Linked DNA regions of Homo sapiens: regions 2, 3 and 4 are each linked to region 1. The links come from fine-mapping of genetic effects on plasma protein levels. A gene starts in region 1. Each other region holds a variant in brackets. All regions are shown on one strand. Distances are from middle to middle. Region 1 holds the start of MPI (mannose phosphate isomerase). Region 2 overlaps PTPN9 (protein tyrosine phosphatase non-receptor type 9). Region 3 has its middle 11 kb from the start of PTPN9. Region 4 has its middle 14 kb from the start of CYP1A2.

What was found. PIP is the chance, under the fine-mapping model, that this variant and not a neighbour inherited with it causes the effect. Protein levels are from antibody-based Olink assays in UK Biobank. Linkage for the fine-mapping came from a reference panel and not from the study's own genotypes, which makes the PIPs less certain.
Region 2: its variant is fine-mapped to the plasma level of the MPI protein (UK Biobank, PIP above 0.99).
Region 3: its variant is fine-mapped to the plasma level of the MPI protein (UK Biobank, PIP 0.91).
Region 4: its variant is fine-mapped to the plasma level of the MPI protein (UK Biobank, PIP above 0.99).

Annotation. Positions count from the first base shown.
Region 1 is chr15:74,886,092-74,891,245 of GRCh38, forward strand. It overlaps MPI (mannose phosphate isomerase), which reads left to right and starts at 3,951. Exons shown (of 8, transcript NM_002435.3): 1 at 3,951-3,998; 2 at 4,436-4,563. The coding sequence starts at 3,983. RefSeq lists enhancers at 3,568-3,617, 3,778-4,077, 3,867-4,400, 4,198-4,277.
Region 2 is chr15:75,495,330-75,500,483 of GRCh38, forward strand. All of the region lies in intron 7 of PTPN9 (protein tyrosine phosphatase non-receptor type 9), which reads right to left. It overlaps LOC105370902 (a long non-coding RNA gene), which reads left to right. Exons shown (of 4, transcript XR_932482.2): 3 at 3,733-3,874. Among named protein-coding and RNA genes, the nearest start is that of SIN3A, 46 kb to the left of the region's middle. The variant C/T (reference allele first, on the strand shown) is at 2,404.
Region 3 is chr15:75,587,303-75,592,456 of GRCh38, forward strand. No RefSeq gene overlaps it. Among named protein-coding and RNA genes, the nearest start is that of PTPN9, 11 kb to the left of the region's middle. The variant G/GA (reference allele first, on the strand shown) is at 2,778.
Region 4 is chr15:74,760,120-74,765,273 of GRCh38, forward strand. No RefSeq gene overlaps it. Among named protein-coding and RNA genes, the nearest start is that of CYP1A2, 14 kb to the left of the region's middle. RefSeq lists an enhancer at 3,508-3,622 and a cis regulatory region at 3,515-3,613. The variant G/C (reference allele first, on the strand shown) is at 2,406.

The DNA.
Region 1 (5,154 bases):
CCTGAACTCTATCTCATGATCTGCCCGCCTTGGCCTCCCAAAGTGCTGGGATTACAGGCATGAGCCACCACGCCCAGCCCCTATCTTTAGTTTTTATAGAGAACTAAACATCTTGTGACTCTGGCTTACTTGGGTGGCTGCTTAAGTTACTATTACCTTCTTCCTTGGTGGGTTATTCATTTACTTCCCTAATTGCTGGGTGCAGGGCTAGCTAGTTCCTGAAATCTCCCTTGAAGGGACTCAAAATTTTCCCTTTATCTCCATACTTGCGGGCCAGAGGGGCACCTAAGAAGGGTCTGTCCTCCATATCAATGTCTCTCTGGGCCTGATAATATAAAAGGATGCACATTCCTCAGATAAAATCTCTTTTCTCAAGATAGACCAGCAAGAGGGAAGAAGTAGAAGGTTCTAGGTTCTCCAAACACCCTAGTTTCTCTTACAGATAAGTTTTTCTGTATTGGGGGAGGGTGGCATGGGGTTGGGGGGTGGTCTGTATCTCCCAACAATCTAAGTTCTTCCTTCACTTTGCAGGGATACTATGAGCAAATAACCCTGACTCTGTTTTCTGTGGTAGTGGTAGTGGGGAGTGCTCCAAGAACTCCTTGAGCCTCATTAGTCCCTCGTTCTTATCTGAGAAGGTTCCTATTGCTTGGTGTATTAGTCCGTTTTCATGCTGCTATAAAGATACTACCTGAATTGGGTAATTTATAAAGAAAGGAGGTTTGGGCCAGGCATGGTGGCTCATGCCTGTAACCCAGCACTTTGGGAGGCTGAGGTGGGTGGATCACCTGCAGTCAGGATTTTGAGACCAGCCTGGCCAACATGGTGAAACCCCGTCTCTACTAAAAATACAAAAATTAGCCGGGCATGGTGGCACGTGCCTGTAGTCCCAGCTATTTGGGAGGCTGAGACAGGAGAATCGCTTGAACCCGGGAGGCGGAGGTTGCAGTGAGCCAAGATCGTGCCACTGCACTCTACTCTGGGTGACAGAGTGAGACTCCATCTCAAAAAAAAAAAAAAAAGGAGGTTTGGCCTGACGCGGTGGCTCATGCCTGTAATCTCAGCACTTTGGGAAGTCAAGGCAGGTGGATCACCTGAGGTCAGGAGTTCGAGACCAGCCTGGGCAAAATGGTGAAACCTCGCCTCTACTAAAAATACAAAAATTAGCCGGGCATGGTGGTGTGCACCCAGCTACTTGGGTGGCTGAGGCAGGAGAATCACTTGAACCTGGGAAACAGAGCTTGCAGTGAGCTGAGATCATGCCACTGCACTCCAGCCTGGGCAACGGAGCAAGACTCAATACTCAAAAAGAAAAAATAAAAAAAAAGAAAGGAGGTTTAATTGACTCACAGTTCTACATGGCTGGGGAGGCCTCAGGAGCTTATAATCATGACAGAAGGCAAAGGGGAAGCGAGGCACATCTTAGATGGCAGTAGGAGAGAGAGCGAGAAAGTGCCACACTTTAAAACCATCAGCTCTTGGGAGAACTCACTCACTATCATGAGAACAGCATGGGGGAAACCACCCCCATGATCCAATCACCTCCCACCAGGTCCCTCCCTCAACATGTGGGGATTACAATTCAAGATGAGATTTGGGTGGGGACACAGAGCCAAATCATATCACTTGGGTAGTGGAGATGAGGGAAAGGAGTGGTATTCCAAAGCACGAGGTATTGAGTACGTTGTTTCATGAGTCTTTTTTTTTTTTATTTATTTTTTATTTTTTTATTGATCATTCTTGGGTGTTTCTCGCAGAGGGGGATTTGGCAGGGTCACAGGACAACAGTGGAGGGAAGGTCAGCAGATAAACAAGTGAACAAAGGTCTCTGGTCTTCCTAGGCAGAGGACCCTGCGGCCTTCCGCAGTGTTTGTGTCCCTGGGTACTTGAGATTAGGGAGTGGTGATGACTCTTAACGAGCATGCTGCCTTCAAGCGTCTGTTTAACAAAGCACATCTTGCACCGCCCTTAATCCATTAACCCTGAGTGGACACAGCACATGTTTCAGAGAGCACAGGGTTGGGGGTAAGGTCACCGATCAACAGGATCCCAAGGCAGAAGAATTTTTCTTAGTACAGAACAAAATGAAAAGTCTCCCATGTCTACCTCTTTCTACACAGACACGGCAACCATCCGATTTCTCAATCTTTCCCCCACCTTTCCCCCCTTTCTATTCCACAGAACTGCCATTGTCATCATGGCCCGTTCTCAATGAGCTGTTGGGTACACCTCCCAGACGGGGTGGTGGCCGGGCAGAGGGGCTCCTCACTTCCCAGTAGGGGCGGCCGGGCAGAGGCGCCCCTCACCTCCCGGACGGGGTGGCTGGCCGGGCGGGGGGCTGACCCCCCTACCTCCCTCCCGGACGGGGCAGCTGGCTGGGCAGAGGGGCTCCTCACTTCCCAGTAGGGGCGGCCGGGCAGAGGCGCCCCTCACCTCCCGGACGGGGCGGCTGGCCGGGCTGGGGGCTGACCCCCCCACCTCCCTCCCGGACGGGGCGGCTGGCCAGGCGGGGGGCTGTCATGAGTCTTGTATTATCCATTTTATTATTCCTTAGTGCATGGTAAAGCTTCCTTTAAAATGCAAGCTGATTTATTTGAGCCAGAGGACCCCAGGGGAGGTGAGATAGATACCCACACCTGGGCAGAGGATTACAGGGAAAACGGCACCCGCTCTTTCCCCTGGGCACATATGGTAGAGGCTGTGGGAATGAGGGTATTGCAGGGGTGATGAGGGTAGAGTCAGGACTGTAACTCCTCATTCCAGGTTCCCCGGAGCTTTGACTGTTGTGCTCCTAGCCTCAAGCAATCCTTCTGCCTCTGCCTCCTAAGGTGCTAGGATTACAGGCCTGAGCCACTGACTGTCCTCCTCCTAGGAGGCTGTTGACTGAGAAGGTCTGGATGTCAAAGCCTTTCACCACAGGATATAGCCAAGATTACTGCAGAGCCAAGGCCCAAGGCCATCCTTCCCTATGCACAGCTCTTCGTAATTCCCCTGACTTCTGTGTGTGCAACTTGTAAGCAGCTCAGCCTGGAGTAGAAGTTGGGGTTCTGACTTTCTACAGCACCTGGGACGGGAAGGATCAGAGGAGCACAGGGAGCTGACTGCCTTATAGGTGTCTCACGTCATCCCATCTGACCCTCCAACAAGCATGTCAGGCTGGCATTATTCACCCCATTCTACAAAGCTCAGAGCAGTGAAGGGCCTTGCATGTGACATTTACCATCATCATCACTAGTATGTCCCTACTCACATCACAGCAATTCTTTGCTCAAATCTGTAATTGCTGAGACTCGAAGTAAAACCCAAAGTCTTCACAATAGCAATAGCCTGCAAAGCTCTGCCCCCCTCCTCTCTTCTCTGACCTCCTCACTGCCCCTGTCTTACTCACTCTGCTCCAGCCACAGTGGCCTCCTTGCTAGCAGTTCCCTCCCCAACACGCCCGGCACAGTCCCACATTCCCGCCTTGCTCTGGCTTCCGCTGTGGCTGTTTCCTCCCCGCAGAACACTCCTGCCTTCCTCACCGCCAAGTCTGGACTCAAACCTCACCTCCTCAAGAGGCTTGCCCAGACAGCCTTTTATATTCTGCAAACTGCCTCCCACTGCCACCTGCCCCCTTACTTTTTGTGGCCTTGACCTTTCAACATACTACATGATTTGCTTACAATACTTGTCTGTCTTGCCTTCACCAGAATGTAAGCGCTCTACAAAGGCAGAGGGAAGGCTATCTTGCTCTCTGATGTATCCTCCAGCCCTTAGAACAGTCCGTGGTACTTAGCAGGTTTTCAGTACATCTGTGCCCGGCGATGGAAAGAATGAATGAATAGTGAGACCGAAGATCGCGGCCGTAAGCCTCTGGGCACGGGTGCCCCGGGGCCTGGCGGAACGCTCAGGGAACTACATTTCCCGTGAAGCTCTGGGCGCAGAGGGCCGCGGGGGCTGCCGGGAAAGGCATACGTGCTTAATCCTGGTGCAGGGGGCGAGCATGGCCGCTCCGCGAGGTGAGCCATTGGCTGGGGTGTCGGCGAGTGTGTTCGTGGAGCGCGTCCTGGGGACGACTCCCGGCATTATCGGCCAGGTTGAGTCCGCTCCTGGCATTCCGCGGAAAGATGGGTGGGTGCCGGGCAGAGGTGTGGCCACCTGCGATGGGGATTGACCTCCGAGGGGAGGGGGCCCTTCTAGACGTCGTGCCGTGGGATAGGTACCTTCTGCTCCCTCCCCGCCACCCTGCCTCAGATCAGCACAAGGTCCTTACTGCTGCCCATCTGACAGTTGGGAACATCGAGGCCTGCAGCGGAGGGGGGTCTCATCCAACAGCCTACAAAACCCTTATTTGACTCTGTCCCCAGTGAGCACCCCCAGCTCTTGCCTGGTTTCCCGGGACACTAGGGTGGGGCCTGAGGAGTGGAGTGGCAGCTGACCCTGTCTGTGCCCCTAGTATTCCCACTTTCCTGTGCGGTGCAGCAGTATGCCTGGGGGAAGATGGGTTCCAACAGCGAAGTGGCGCGGCTGTTGGCCAGCAGTGATCCACTGGCCCAGATCGCAGAGGACAAGCCTTATGCAGAGGTGAGCCCCGGGCTGTATTTCAGCCCACTTTACCCGCAGGTCAGGAGAAAGGGCCTGAGGCAAGTCATAAGAATCAGCTGGGAAGGGTGAGGCAGCAAGGAGGGAGGAGACCCACTTGGCTCTTCAGGCTAATGGACTAGATAGTGTTATCAAAAAGAAGAGAGGTTTTGTCATAATAGGCTGGGATTTCCAGCACTCTCCTTCCCCCAACCACTCTTAGCACTTAGTGAATTTTAATTCAGCCCTCTTTGACAATTAAGTTTTTTTACTTTGACTATTTTTTTGCATTTTTATTAACCTAAAATATTTCTCCTGCCTATTTAGTGGAGAAAAAGCCAAAGCATAGGAAGGCTTTCGCCTCTGCTTCTGAAACTGGAAGATGTATGTTAACCCCTGAAAGAATCATTTAAGAGTCATAGTTTTTCTGCTACCTTGACAGTGCAGATGTCATTCTCCTCTTTGGACAGACAAAGAAGATACATCTAAAGAAGGGAAATAACTAGTCCAAGTCTTCATAGATGGCTAGAGGCCGAGTCTGGACAAGGGCCTGGGTCTACTGCCTCCCTGTATGTCCATGATGGCATGAACATT
Region 2 (5,154 bases), 610 kb after region 1:
AAAAAATAGATGCAATTGATTATCTGATACATTCAATCACTTGGAAACTAATGATAACACTGTAAAATAAATCTGATTGGGCATATAGAAAAATAATGAAGGGCCAAGCACGGTGGCTCACACCTACAATCCCAGCACTTTGGGAGGCCAAGGTGGGCAGATCACTTGAGGTCAGGAGTTCGAAACCAGCCTAGCCAACATAGTGAAACCATGTCTCTACTAAAAATAACAAAAAACATTAGCTGGGCAAGGTGGCAGGTGCCTATAATCCCAGCTACTCAGGAGGCTGAGATATGAGAATCGCTTGAACCCAGGGTGTGGAGGTTGCAGTGAGCCGAGATCGCGCCACTACACTCCAGCCTGGGCAACATCAAAACAACAACCACAACAACAAAACAAAACAACAACAACAACAATAAAAAACAAAAGAAAAAGAATGAGGAACATATACAGAAAACTAAAGGAAATGAAAAAATCTGGTAATTAACTCCAGAAGAAACAAAAAATTGAATTGATAAGATCATTAGGCCAGGTGTAGTGGCTCATTCCTGTAATCCCAGTATTTTGGGAGGCTGAGGCAGGTGGACTGCCTGAGCTCAGGAGTTTGGGACCAGCCTGGGCAACATGGCGAAACCCCATCTCTACCAAAAATACAAAAAATTAGCCAGACGTGGTGAAGCATGCCTGTGGTCCCAGCTACTCTGGAGGCTGAGGTGAGAGAATTGCTTGAGTTTGGGAAGCAGAGGTTGCAGTGAGCTGAGATAGAGCCACTGTACTCCAACCTGGGTGAGAGAGTGAGAGCCTGTCTCAAAAAAAAAAAAAAAGGCTGGACGTAGTGGTTCACACCTGTAATCCCAGCACTTTGGGAGGCCGAGGCAGGTGAATCACTTGAGGCCAGGATTTTGAGACCAGCCTGGCCAACATGGTGAAATCCCATCTGTTCTAAAAATTAAAAAAAAAAAAAAAATTGTTAATATATTTGATCATTTCATAGTAGCCCATGTAGCTCTCCAGTAAAAATAATTTACATAGTCATAATAATGTACAATGACGATTCAATTTAAGAATGTTACATATAATTATTGGAAGAGTAGTCAAAATGAAAGTGGAGACATAGTATAAGAGCTAAATGAGCACCTACAATAAAAGTCACTAAAAGTATTATTAACTTTTTTTTTTTTTTTTGAGACAGGGTCTCGCTCTGTATTCCAAGCTGGAGTCCAGTGGCACAATTTTGGCTCACTGCAGCCTCAACGTCCCAGGCTCAAGTGAGCTTCCCACCTCAGCCTCCCAAGTAGCTGGGATTACAAACACACGCCACCACACCAAGCTAATTTTTGTAATTTTTGTAGAGACAGGGTTTCCACCTGTCTCTACATGTTGCTCAGGCTGGTCTTGAAATCCTAGGCTCAAACGATCTACCCACCTCAGCCTCCCAAAGTGCTGGGATTACAGGCATGAGCCACTGTGCCTGGCATATTATAAGCATTTTAATTTAGAATTAGGGATGAAATACCAGGGGAAACAGCTACAAGAGTTGAATACATGATTATAGGTAATGGAACTGAGGGTAAAATAGGAATTTGCTATTTATTTTGTCATTGCTTGTCTTCTTTAGAACTGTTTGGTTTTGAAAAAAATTATTTGCATATATTAACTGAAAGCAAAGAAATTACAAAGGTCACACATATAAAATAATACTCTATATTGTTCATGAGTGCTTATGCATATATAACAGTATAAACAAAATCAACTAGAAAGAAATATCATATTCATACTAGTAGCTGCTTATGATGAGTGGGGAGAACTAAGGATGCGGATTAGAAGGAATTTCAACTTTATAATAAATTCTTTCTCTCATATAATAATTAAAAAGACAGCTGGGCACAGTGGCTCATGCCTAAAATCCTAGTGCTTTGGGAGGCTGAGGTGGGAGAATCACTTGAGCCCAGGAGTTTGAGACCAGCCTGGGCAACAGAGCAAGACTCCATCTCTACAAAAACTTCAAAAAAATTAGCAAGGTGTGGCACCCCATACTTCTTGTCCCAGCTACTAGGAAGGCTAAGGCAAGAAAATCACTTGAGCCCAGGAGGTTAAGGCTGCCATAAGCTATGACAGTGCCACTGCACCTGCACTCCAACCTATGCGACAGAGCAAGAACACATGTCTCTCTTAAAAAGAAAGAAAAAGGCCAGGTGTGGGGGCTCATGCCTGTAATTCCAGCACTTTAGGAGGCCAAGGTGGGTGGATCACCTGACGTGAGGAGCTCGAGACCACTCTGACCAACATGGCGAAACCCCGTCTCTATGAAAAATACAAAAAATTAGCTGGGCTTGGTAGCGGGCACCTGTAATCCCAGCTACTTGGGAGGCTAAGGCAGGAGAATCGCTTGAACCCAGGAGG[C/T]GGAGGTTGCAGTGAGCTGAAGTCACACCATTGCACTCCAGCCTGGGCAACAAGAGCAAAACTCTGTCTCAAAAAAAAAAAAAAAAAGATGAAGCAAATATAACAAAATATTAACAAGAGTCAGTGTTGATTCTGTGGTAGGAACATAGTTGTCTGTAAAATCTTAAAAAATTTCAGCCCAGCGCAGTGGCTCATGCCTGTAATCCCAGCACTTTGGGAGGCTGAGGCTGGCGGATCACCTGAGGTCAGGAGTTGGAGACCAGCCTAGTCAATATGGTGAAACCCCATCTTTACTAAAAATACAAAAAAAAAAATTAGCTGGGCGTGGTAGCAGGCACCTGTAATCCCAGCTACTTGGGAGACTGAGGCGGGAGATCACTTGAACCCATGAGGCGGAGGTTGCAGCGAGCTGAGATCACGCCACTGAACTCCAGCCTGGGCGACAGAGCGAGACCACATCTCAGAGAAATATATATATATATTTCTCCCTTCCTATACGAATATGCCTAGTGAATAAAACCAATCCTAAAAGATTACATACAGTATGTATGTAATTTTTTTACATTTTATGTAATGTTACTTGATATAACAACAATTTGGAAAGGACAAAATTAGAGAAATGGAGAATAGATTAGTGGTTGCAGGGGTTAGGAATGGGGAGGTGGTGGGAAGGAGGTATATGTTTACTATAGGGCAATGAGGCTGGGCACGGTGGCTCACACCTGTAATCCCAGCACTTTGGGAGGCCGAGGTGAGTGGATCACCTGAGGTCAGGAGTTTGAGATCAGCCTGGCCAACATGGTGAAACCCTGACTGTAGTAAAAATACAAAAATTCGTCAGGCATGGTGGTGCACGCCTGTAATCCCAGCTACTTGGGAGGCTGAGGCAGGAGAATCGCTTGAACCTGGGAGGCAGAGGTTACAGGGAGCTGAGATTGCACCACAGCACTCCAGCTTGGGTGACAGAGCAAGACTCTGTCTTAAAAAAATAAGTAAATAAAAATAAAAATATTGATCGCTTCTCAGTCTTTTGGCTAAGATCAAGTGTAAAATAAAAATAATGAAGGGCAACGAGGGGAGCCTTGTGGTGACAGAACTCTGTATCTTGATTATGGTGACAGATACACAAACCTACATGTGTGACAAAACTGCACAGAACTAAATACACAAAAATGAAGTAAAACTGGGGAAGTCTAAATCAGATTGGTGGATTGTATCTATATTAACATTCTGGCTGTGATATTACACTATAGTTTTGGAAGATGTTATCATGGGATAACTGTAGAAAGGGTACATGTAATCTGTCTCCATTATTTCTTACAACTGCAGGTGAATCTACAATTATAAGAAAAAGTAAAAAGAGAAAAGGGAAAGAAAGTCTCTTGGTCCAGGGGAATCCTGGGCAAGAGTGAATATACACTGATAGCCACTTCATAATCCAGAATTCCAAGGGAGACACAGTTTGTTCTTTGTAAGTAGCTCTACTGGGAGTTGGTGTAAGTCAGAGGCTTGGAGCTGATGAGGATTCTAGGTTCTAAATCATAAAGTGGGGAATCAGTCATTCAATAGGCAAGACTAGGAAGTCCTCTCATTAGATGAGAGATCTGTTCTCTGATTGTCAAATGGTAGCTGGTTTGGATGATGGCAACAAGACGATCTAAACCCACTTTTTTTTTTTTTTTTTTTTTTTTGAGACAGAGTCTTGCTCTATCGCCCAGGCTGGAGTGCGGTGGCATGATCTTGGCTCACAGCAACCTCCGCCTCCTGGGCTCAAGTGATTCTCCTGCCTCAGCCTCCCAAGTAGCTGGGACTACAGGTGCGTGCCACCACACCCAGCTAATTTTTGTATTATTAGAAGAGACGGGGTTTCACCATGTTGGCCAGGATGTTCTCAATCTCTTGACCTCGTGATCTGCCAGCCTCAACCTCCCAAAGTGCTGCGATTACAGGCGTGAGCCACCGCGCCCAGCCAAACCCACTTTTTTAATGGAGGAGGGGAGACTCCATAGTAGAAATGACATCTCAAGGGCCTCACAGCAGCTGGTAGTTGCAAAAGCACCGAGAGCAAGGTGAAGAATCCCCAGGATAAGTGTGCATCCTCTTAGATCAGCCTAGCATGCCTCCCTGCTCCAACATATTTCCTTGATTCAAGACTGCAAGGGAGGCTGGGCATAGTGGCTCATGCCTGTAATCCCAGCACTTTGCAGGGCTGAGGTGGGCAGATCACTTGAGGTCAGGAGTTCGAGATCAGCCTGGCCAACATGGCAAAACCCCATCTCTACTAAAAATACACAAATTAGGCCAGGCATGGTGGCTCACGCCTGTAATCCTAGCACTTTGGGAAGCCAAGGAGGACGAATCACCCGAGGTCAGGAGTTTGAGACCAGCCTGGCCAACACAGTGAAACCCCATCTCTACTAAAAATACAAAATTAACCGGGTGTGGTGGCACACGCCTGTAATCCCAGCTACTCAGGAGGCTGAGGCAGGAGAATTGCTTGAGCCGGGAGATGGAGGTTGCAGTGGGCTGAGATCGTGGCACTGCACTCTAGCCTGGCCGAGAGTGAGACTCTGTCTCAAAATAAATAAATAAATAAATAAACAAACATACATACACACACACACACACACACACACACATATATATACACACACAAATTAGTTGGGTGTGGTGGCACACACCTGTAATTCCATCTACTTGGGAGACTAAGGCACAGAATGGCTTGAACCCACAAGGCGGAGGTTGCAGTGG
Region 3 (5,154 bases), 700 kb after region 1:
AAATCCCATTTGTCTATTTTGGGCTTTTGTTGCCACTGCTTTTGGTGTTTTAGTCATGAAGTCCTTGCCCACGCCTATGTCCTGAATGGTATTGCCTAGGTTTTCTTCTAGGGTTTTTATGGTTTTAGGTCTAACATTTAAGTCTTTAATCCATCTTGAATTAATTTTTGTATAAGGTGTAAGGAAGGGATGCAGTTTCAGCTTTCTACATATATATCCGGCTAATTTTTGTATTTTTAGTAGAGACAGGCTTTCGCCATGTTGACCAGGCTGGTCTCGAACTCCTAACCTCAGGTGATCTGCCCGCCTTGGCCTCCCAAAGTGCTGGGATTACAGGCGTGAGCCACCGCGCCCGGCCCAAAACAGACGTTTTGTTTTGTTTTTCTGAGAGAGAGTCTCAATCTATCACCCGGGCTGGAGTGCAGTGATGCGATCTCAGCTCACTGCAACCTCCGCCTCCTGGGTTCAAGCAATTCTCATGCCTCAGCCTCCTGAGTAGCTGGGATTACAGGCGCCCACCACCATGCCCAGCTAATTTTTGTATTTTTAGTAGAGATGGGGTTTCACCATATTGTCCAGGCTGGTCTTGAACACCTGACCTCAGATGATACACCCACTTCAGCCTCTCCAAGTGCTGGGATTACATGCGTGAGCCACCACACCCAGCCCAGAACAGACATTTTATAAAATAAGACATTTAAATCTCAACAGGCATATAAAAAGATGCTTAACTTCACTGATCATCAGAGAAATGCAAATCGAAACTACAATGAGGCCAGGCATGGTGGCTCATGCCTTTAATCTCAGCACTTTGGGAGGCCGAGGCAGGTGGATCACTTGAGGTCAGGAGTTCAAGACCAGCCTGGCCAACATGGTGAAACCTCGTCTCTACTAAAAATACAAATATTAGCAGGGCACAGTGGTGCACACCTGTAATCCCAGCTACTCAGGAGGATGAAACAGGAGAATCGCTTGAACCCGGGAGGCGGATTGCGCCACTGCACTCCAGCCTGGGCAACAGAGTGAGACTCTATCTCAAAATAAATAAATAAATAAAATAAAATAAAATTACAATGAGATACCATCTCACCCCAGTTAAAATGGTTTTTATCCAAAAGACAGGCAATAACAAATGCTGGCAAGGATGTGGAGAATAGGGAACCCTCATACACTTTTGGTGGGAATATAAATTAGTACAACCACTATGGAGAACAATTTGGAGGTTCCTAAAGAAAACCTAAAAATATAGCCAGGTGAGGTGGCTCATGCCTGGAGGCTAAGGCAGGAAGATCACTTGAGTCCAAGATTCCAGGAGTTTGAGTCCAGGCTGGGCAACACAGTGAGACCTCATCTGTACAAAATATAAAGAAAATCAGCTAGGAGTAGTGATGCACACCTGTAGTCCCAGGTACTTGGGAGGCTGAGGTGTGAGGATCACTTGAGCCTGGGAAATAAAGGCTGCAGTGAACTGTGATTACACCACTGCACTCCAGCCTGGGCAAGAGAGTCAGACCTTGTTGAAAAGGGAGGAGAGGGGAGGGGAAGGGAAGGGAGGGAAGGTGTAGGGGAAAAGAGGGGTGAGGGGAGGAGGGGGGAAGGAAGGGGAGGGGAAGAAAAGGGGAAGGGAGGAAAAGGGGAGGGGAGGGAAGGAAAGGGGAGGGGAGGGGGGAGAGGAGGAAAAGGGGAGGGAGGAGGGGAAGGAAGGGGAGGGGAAGAGAGGGGAGTGGGAGGGGAGGGGAGAGGGAGGGGAGGAAAGAAAAGAAAAAGCCAAAAATAAAGCTACCAATCCCCCTCCTAGGTATATACCCCAAAGAAAGGAAATCAGTATGTTGAAGAGACATCTGCACTCCCATGTTTACTGCTGCACTATTCACAATAGCTAAAATTTGGAAGCAGCCTAAGTGTTCATCAACATATAAATGGATAAAGAAAATGTGGCACAGATACACAATGGAGAACTATTAAGTCATAAAAAAGAATGAGGCCGGGTACAGTGACTCACGCCTGTAATTTCAGCACTTTGGGAGGCCGAGGGGCAGATCACTTGAGGCCAGGGGTTGAAGACCAGCCTAGCCAACATGATGAATCCCTGTCTCTGTTTAAAAAAATACTAAAAATACAAAAATTAACCGGGTGTGGTGGCGCATACCTGTAATCCCAGCTACTTGGGAGGCTGAGGCATGAGAATCGCTTGAACCTGGGAGGCAGAGGTTGCAGTGAGCCAAGATTGTGCCACTGCACTCCAGACTGGGTGACAGAGTGAGACTCTGTCTCAAAAAAAAAAAAAAAAAAAAAGAGAGAGAGGGATCCTGTCATTTGCAACAACATGGATGGAACTGAAGGTCATTATGTTAAGTGAAATAAGCCAGGCACAGAAAGACAAACTTCCCATGTTCTCACTTATTTTGTAGGAGCTAAAAATTAAAATAATTGAACTCATGGAGATAAAGAGTAGAAGGATGGTAACCAGAGGATGGGAAGGGTAGTGGGGGGTGAGGGAGAAGTGGGGATGGTTAATGGGTACAGAAAAATAGAAAGAATGAATAAGAGCCAGGTGCAATGGCTCATGCCTATAATCCTTGCACTTTGGGAGGCCAAGGCAAGTGGATGGCTTGAGCTCAGGAATTTGAGACCAGCCTAGGCAACATGGCAAGACTCTGTCTCTACTAAAAATACAAAAAAGATCACTTGAGCCTGGGAGGCAGGGGTTGCAGTGAGCTGAGATCACGCCACTGCACTCCAGCCTGGGTGACAGAGTGAGACCCTGTCTCAAATTA[G/GA]AAAAAAAAAAAAGAATGAGTAAGGTGTATTTGCTAGCACAACAGGGTGACTATAGTACAAAATAATTTAATTGTACATTTCAAAATAATTAAGAATATAATTGGATTGTTTGTAACACAAAGGATAAATGCCTGGGATGGATACCCCATTTACCTTGATGTGATTATTATGCGTTGCATGCCTGTATGAAAATATCTCATGTGACCCATAAATATATACATCTACTATGTGATGTACCCACAAAAAAGAAAAAGAGAAAGAAAAAAAATAGCATAAGTTTCAGGTCTCTGTCTAGAAAGCTTATCCTCCCCTCCCAGCACCTTCTTCACCAGACATATCTGATTCATCCTTAAGGTCTCAGCTCAAAAGTCACTTCCCCAGCAAGATCTTCCTTGATTACTCTCTAAACTGAACTGCACTTTCTGAGACTCATAGCACCCTTTTATTCGTCAGAGAGCTGATCACAATTTGTAATTATGCACTTGTTTCTACATTCATTGGCCTAGTGTTTGTGTGCCTTACTAGATTGTAAGCTTCAGGATGGCAGGAACCACATCTGTCCTGTTGGCCCCTGAACTCCCAGCACCTAGAACCTAGAACATAGTAGGCAATCCCTTGATAAATGTGTTGAATGACTGAATCAAGGAAGATGGCCACTTTATCTATGAGACATATCTTACCATTTTCCCCTCTCTTTTGTTGTATTTATTTGGGTTTAAGAATAGACATACTTCCAATGCTGGAGTTGGAATTTTATAACCTTCTCCACCAAACATTTTTATTTCTAAAATCCAAAGCTCCTCTCAAACATTGCTCCAAAATTTCTACTGCCTATAAAAGAGACTTGTGTTGTGCTATAAAGATGATATGAGGCTGGGCGTGGTGGCTCACGCCTGTAATCCCAGCACTTTGGGAGGCTGAGGCGGGTGGATCACGAGGTCAGGAGTTCGAGACCAGCCTGACCAATGTGGTGAAACCCCATCTCTACTAAAAATACAAAAATTAGCTGGGCGTGGTGGCGCGTGCCTGTAATCCCAGCTACTCAGGAGACTGAGGCAGGAGAATTGCTTGAACCCGGGAGGCGGAGGTTGTAGTGAGCCGAGATTGCACCATTGCAATCCAGCCTGGGCTACAGAGCAAGACTCCATCTCAAAAAAAAAAAAAAGATGATTTGGCTATAAAAGATTCACCCCACCCTGCCAAAAGAAAGAAAGGTGGGCACAGTGGTGCACGTCTGTAGCCCCAGACACTCAGGAGGCCGAGATGGGAGGATTGCTTGAGCCCAGGTGTTCAAGACCAGCCTGGGCAATGTAGTTGAGATCCCATCTCTAAAAAATATCTATCTGTATAGAGTGCAATGGTATAATTATAGCTAATTGCAGCTCTAACTCCTGGCCATAGGAGATCCTCCTACCTCAGCCTTCCAAGCAGCTAGGACTACAGGCACCTATCACCATGCCCAACTAATTTTTAAATTTTTTGTAGAGACAAGGTCTCGCTCTGTTGGCCAGGCTGGTCTGGAACTCCTGGCCTCAAGAAATCCTCCTGCCTTGGCCTCCCAAAGCACTGGGATTATAGGTGTGAACCACCATGCCCAGTCTCATTTCTTTATTAGAAAGGACAGCTAGGGTGATTGCCTTTCCCTTTTCCAATGTACAAAGTTAGTTTTTAAGCTATCCTTTTAATCACGTACACAGAACTAAATATAGTTCTTGTTCCTAAAAGTCTGCAGTATATCCAAGCACCTGTTAGCAGCTTGCCACACACCTCCATTTAGCTTTCTCAGCAAGGTCACTCCTCTGTGCAGCAGCAGAGAGGAGGGGCTCTCCTCCAGGGTGCATTCTCATTCCACCTTAGTATTTCTTCATTCACTCAACTAAAAGTTATTGACGTAACAAGTGCCAAGCATAATGCCAGGCACTGGGGACCTAAAGATGAGGAAGACCAGGTTCCTGACCTCATGGAACTTGCTAGCTAATAGAAGGAGTATGTAGTAAAGAACTTAACCTTGCAAAGAGTGTTCTGGCCTTTGCCCTTCGCTCCTGGGAGGTAACCTCTAAGCCCTTGGAATGTCTTGCCTGATAAAAGTATCTTTGTTTACCAGGAGGCAGACCTTAGGCCACACTGGACAGTCTAACAATGTGATTTAGGCAGAAGTCTTTGGGGCGTACCAGATAGTTTAGCAATGTGATGAGGGAGGAGGGAAGACTTTGGATCACACTTTATCAGGTAGACTTATGGAGGGGCTGGAGACTGAGGTCAGTCACATGGGCAGACAATCAGGTCCACATGACTGAGCCCCAATAAAAATTTTAGACATCATTCCAGCCAGACGCGGTGGCTCATGCCTGTAATCCCAGCACTTTGGGAGGCCAA
Region 4 (5,154 bases), 130 kb before region 1:
GCCCGCCTAATTTTTTTGTATTTTTTAGTAGAGACGGGGTTTCACCGGGGACGGTCTCGATCTCCTGACCTCGTGATCCGCCCGCCTCCCAAAGTGCTGGGATTACAGGCGTGAGCCACCGCGCCCAGCCTAGTTTCAGCTTCTTGAGAGAGGGGTTTGATTGGCTCAGCTCATCTTTTTCAGCCAGGCTACACAGGTCAGAGACCACAGTCAGTCAGTGGTTGGGTCCCCTTGGAGCAATGTTTACCCTGGTAAATAGCCACAGGCAACAGAGTGAGGGTCACAGGGTCTAAGCTACCTCAGCAAGGGATCCCTGCACACAAGTCCTGGAAGAAACAATGGCACAGCGGAAAGCTAGCGGAACACACAAAAGCCTCCATTTGTCACTTTTCTGCTCTGCCCACCTCTCCTCACACCCACACTACAAAGAAAATTATCTTTGCTCTCATCTTTTCCCGTGACTCCCAGGTTGAGACCTCCTAACAACAAATTAGAAATAGCTTTAACACACACCCCATTGCAAACCAGCTTACACTGCTCTAACTAAGGTTGGAACACTGGGTCAGGTGGTCTTGCCTGGCTCTTTTTTCCCTAAGGGTGACCTCCCTCCCAGGATTCCACTCAGTCCCTATGCAAATGAACTCAGTCACTGGGGTCTCCCTCACCCAGATCTGCCCAGATAAATCTCAGCCTCTCTCTCTCTTTTTTTTTTTTAGGTGGAGTCTTGCTCTGTCGCCCAGGCTGGAGTGCAGTGGTGCGATCTCGGCTCACTGAAACCTCCGCCTCCTGGATTCAAGAAATTCTCCTGCCTCAGCCTCCCAAGTAGCTGGGACGACAGGCATGTGCCACCATGCCCAGCCAATTTTTTTTTTTTTGAGATGGAGTCGCGCTCTGTCGCCCAGGCTGGAGTGCAGTGGTGCGATCTCAGCTCACTGCAAGCTCTGCCTCCTGGGTTCACACCATTCTCCTGCGTCAGCCTCCTGAGTAGCTGGGACTACAGGCGCCCGCCACCACACCTGGCTAATTTTTTGTATTTTTAGTAGAGACGGGATTTCACCGTGTTAGCCAGGATGGTCTCGATCTCCTGACCTCGTGATCCGCCTGCCTCGGCCTCCCAAAGTGCTGGGATTACAGGCGTGAGCCACCGTGCCCGGCCAATTTTTGTATTTTTATTAGAGTATGGGATTTTACCATGTTGTCCAGGCTGGTCTCGAACTCCTGATCTCAGGTGATCCACCCACCTCGGTCTCCCCAAGTGCTGCAATTATAGGCATGAGCCACCATGCCCAGCCAAATCTCAGTCTTAAAGTAACTTGCCCCCCAAGGAAGGATTTTCCAGTTGACAAAGGAATCTGAGGAGGGTGCAGACTCTCTGAAAGAATGGTAGTGAGTATACCATCTGGGTGGGGGAACCAAGCAGAGGCTGACTAGACCAGGGTTTATGCAGTTCAGCGTCAGTCCATGAGCTTGCCCTATATCTTATCCCTATCACTGGCTCCTGTCCCTGAGAGGGGACTGCCACCAGAGGTAGCCATACCCTGAGCCAAGCTCCCCATTCTTTAGTGATCCCCCTCAAAATTAGTTCTGAGACCCTGCATTCTGTCCACCCCTCTGCCATGACATAACACCAGGTTCACTAGAGTCCTCTGGAGTACAGCTGCGATGGAGCCTCTCAGGCAGTGCAATGGGGCGGAGGGGGGCACTTTTGGGCAAGGAGCCTGCCCGATGCCCATCACCCTGCACTAATAAGGGAAGCAGACTCTGCTCTGCATTGAGGGACCTGCACTCTCCCTGTGGGCCCTGCAGCCCAGCGGGTTTTTCTGGGTTTAAGATAACATAGTGGCATAGGTGATACTCAATAGGTTCCCCCAGGCCTTCACCTCTGTATTTACCCCTCCACCCCAGGCCAGTATTAAGATAATTACAGGGCTTGGGAAAGGGAAAAGAGATGAGACCAGAGGCTGGCTCACAGATCCAGAAGAAAATCCCAGCTCACCCACTAACCTTGGGCCTGTGACATAAACTTTCTGAGTCTAGACTTTCTCATCTCGCAACTGGGGATGATAATCTTATCTTACAGGTTGGGTGGGAGGTTTAATGAGATAATGTGTGTAAAGTGCCAAATTACAGGTCAGGGTACAACACACACACACACACACACACACACACACACACACACACACACACCAGAAATCCTGAGAAAGGTGGACTCAGGGCAAGATGGACCCCCGACACACGTGTGGCATGTGCAGCTGTGCACACACCAGGCCCACACGTGAGCCAGCATTTCCCCAAACCCTGCGCTCTCTCACTGGGGTCTTGCCAGGGCCTGGGCTCAGCCCACTTCCTTCCACTGCTCCCCCCACCCAGAAGCTGGGGAGGGCTGGGGGTGGTAGCGTGCCAGG[G/C]AACAATGGGCCCCCAACCCCTTCCCGCCCATTGCGTGAGAAGGAGCTGCCGGAAGGAAACTCACCTCCCAGTGGGACAGGCCGCCGCCCCCCTGACGTCTGCCCCAGGGAAGTCTGGAGACCCCCATGCTGCTCAAGGGGCGGGCCTCTGTGCACTCCAGGCCTGCCACCCTTGGGACATCCTGTTTTCACCACCTGGACTGGCTTCCCCCGCCCCCTCTTTCAGAGAAGATGGTCCCAGACCCTCTCTCTGGGGCTGGGCTGGGTTCCCCACAAGAGTCTAGGGCCCTGTTCTCATTCATCTCTGTGTCCCCCGTGTGTAGCCTGTTCCGGAGTCGTCTCGAGGAATGCTGGCCAACTGCATGAGAGGCTGAGGGAAAGGAGCCAGACTAGGGGTGATCAGGGACCCAGCAGCTGAGCCAGAAAACATGAGAGAGAGAAGGGCCCAGCTCAGAGTGGCCAAAACGCCTGTGCTGCAGATAGGGGTGTGGTCCCAGAAATGCCTCTGGAGAGCACAGGGCATGCTGTTGAGGGCTGGGGGATGCTCTCCCCCCAAATTTTTGGAACACTCAGCTCAGTTTCATTTGTGTAGTGACACTTCCCTTACAGGCCCGCATTCCTCTCTCTCTCTCATACACAATCACACTCATTCCAGGGGTCTCAGCAGCTCCACCATCAGATGGGGGCTCTTAAAGGCAGGGGTCAGGGAGGAGGCCAGGAGCAGATGAGGAGCTGTTCTTGCACCGTGCCTATCCACACTTAGCAGGATAGCTCAGAGGGTCCCCACCAGGCTGGCTGCTGACCAGAAACTCTGGACATCAATTTCCCCAGCTAGAAAATATGAAGAGTTGGGGGGCCTGGCTGAAACTGACCCTGCCCTGGGCCTTGCTGACCTGGGGTGGCCCAGCTGAAAGTGCCAGTGGGCCGGCAGGGGCTGGGAGCAGGCGTGGGCACGCATTTTGAACCCTAGTCTCGGGTGTGTCGATAAGGCAACAACAGACGTGAGTGCCAGCTCTCAGCGGGTGCATGCGCATGGGCAGATGTGGCCTGGAGTGGTCAGGTGGATGCCTGTGCGTGAGTTCTCCAGGTGTCAGTTCAGGTGGCTCAGCACGCCAGCCAGGTATGTGCGTGTTTGTAGCCAGGCATGTGTTTACAGGTGTGCCTCTATCTCCTGTGCCCTCAGGGCCAAGGGAGCCGCTGGCTCGCGTGTCTGAGAGTCCTTCTTGCCGTGAGAATCATGGAATCTCAAAGTCCCCAGATTAGTGCTTCCTCCAAGGTGGGGGCTGGAGTGGGGTGGCTGGCTGGGTAATCAGGCAGGTTTGGGAAGCATGCTTCTGCTCCTGCTGGCGGGCCATGGTTACATCTGAGGGCTGGGAGACCTGGACTGGTAACTCTACCTCCTTGGACAGCAGTAGTGGGGGGCGGGAAGCTGAGGCCCTGCCCAGAGTTTTGGGGGTCCACAGTGATAAAACAAGTAGCTGAGCACAGTTGGGCAAATTTCAGCAACCATCGCACACCAGACAGGCTGCGCTCTGGGTCAGTGCCTCCACCACAAACTCGGCTCACTGCAAGCTCTGCCTCCCAGGTTCACGCCATTCTCCTGCCTCAGCCTCCCGAGTAGCTGGGACTACAGGCGCCCGCCACCACGCCCGGCTAATATTTTTGTATTTTTAGTAGAGATGGGGTTTCACCGCGTTAGCCAGGATGGTCTCGATCTCCTGACCTCGTGTTCTGCCCGCCTTGGCCTCCCAAAGTGCTGGGATTACAGGCGTGAGCCACCGCACCTGGCAATTTTTTGTATTTTTTAGTAGAGACGGGGTTTCACCGTGTTTGCCAGGATGGTCTTGATCTCCTGACCTGGTGATCCGCCCGCCTTGGCCTCCCAAAGTGCTGGGATTACAGGTGTGAGCCACCACACCTGGCAAGGAATTGATTTTTTTAAAGTAGTATGAGAGTGGAGAAAGCCTTTCTAAGTTTGACACAGGTCCAGAAGCGGCAAAAGAAAAGACTGATTCCACTGCATAAAAATCAATCATTTCTGCATTCCAAAGAATCATAACCAAGTTGGAAGACACACAAGGAACATAAGCCGGTTGGCTTCCAGTTCTCCCCTTCAGTCCCCCTCCATCCCGTGCTCTGTGAGGGGAAGCTGACCTGTGGGGCTTCTATCCACAGACTCCCTGGCCCTCTGGCTCCTAGACGGGTTCATAGAATGGAGGCTCTCACAGGAGATGGGGATGTGTCCTCTGAGGCAATCCTCTCCATGCAGCTCTTTCCCCCAGTAGCATTCTTCAGGCACTACCCTCTCAGGGCCCCCACCGTTCCCTGCCTAACCCCGTGTAATAATCTCTGTATTAATCCTTCCTCGAATTAAACTGTTTCCTGCTGGGGACCCTGAATGATGCACAGATTAAAGGTTAATTTCTTTAATATATAGAGTTCCTATTAAAAAAAAAAAATCCAGGCCGGGCGCAGTGGCTCATGCCTGTAATCCCAGCACTTTGGGAGGCCAAGGCGGGCGGATCACGAGGTCAGGAGTTCGAGACCAGCCTGGCCAATATGGTGAAACCCCCGTCTCTACTAAACATACAAAAGTTAGCCGGGCGTGGTGGCACGTGCCTGTAATCCCAACTACTCAGGGGGTTGAGGCAGGAGAATTGCTTGAACCAGGGAGGCGGAGGTTGCAGTGAGCTGAGATCGCGCCACTGCACTCCAGGCTGGGTGACAGAGCAAGACTCCATGTCAAAAA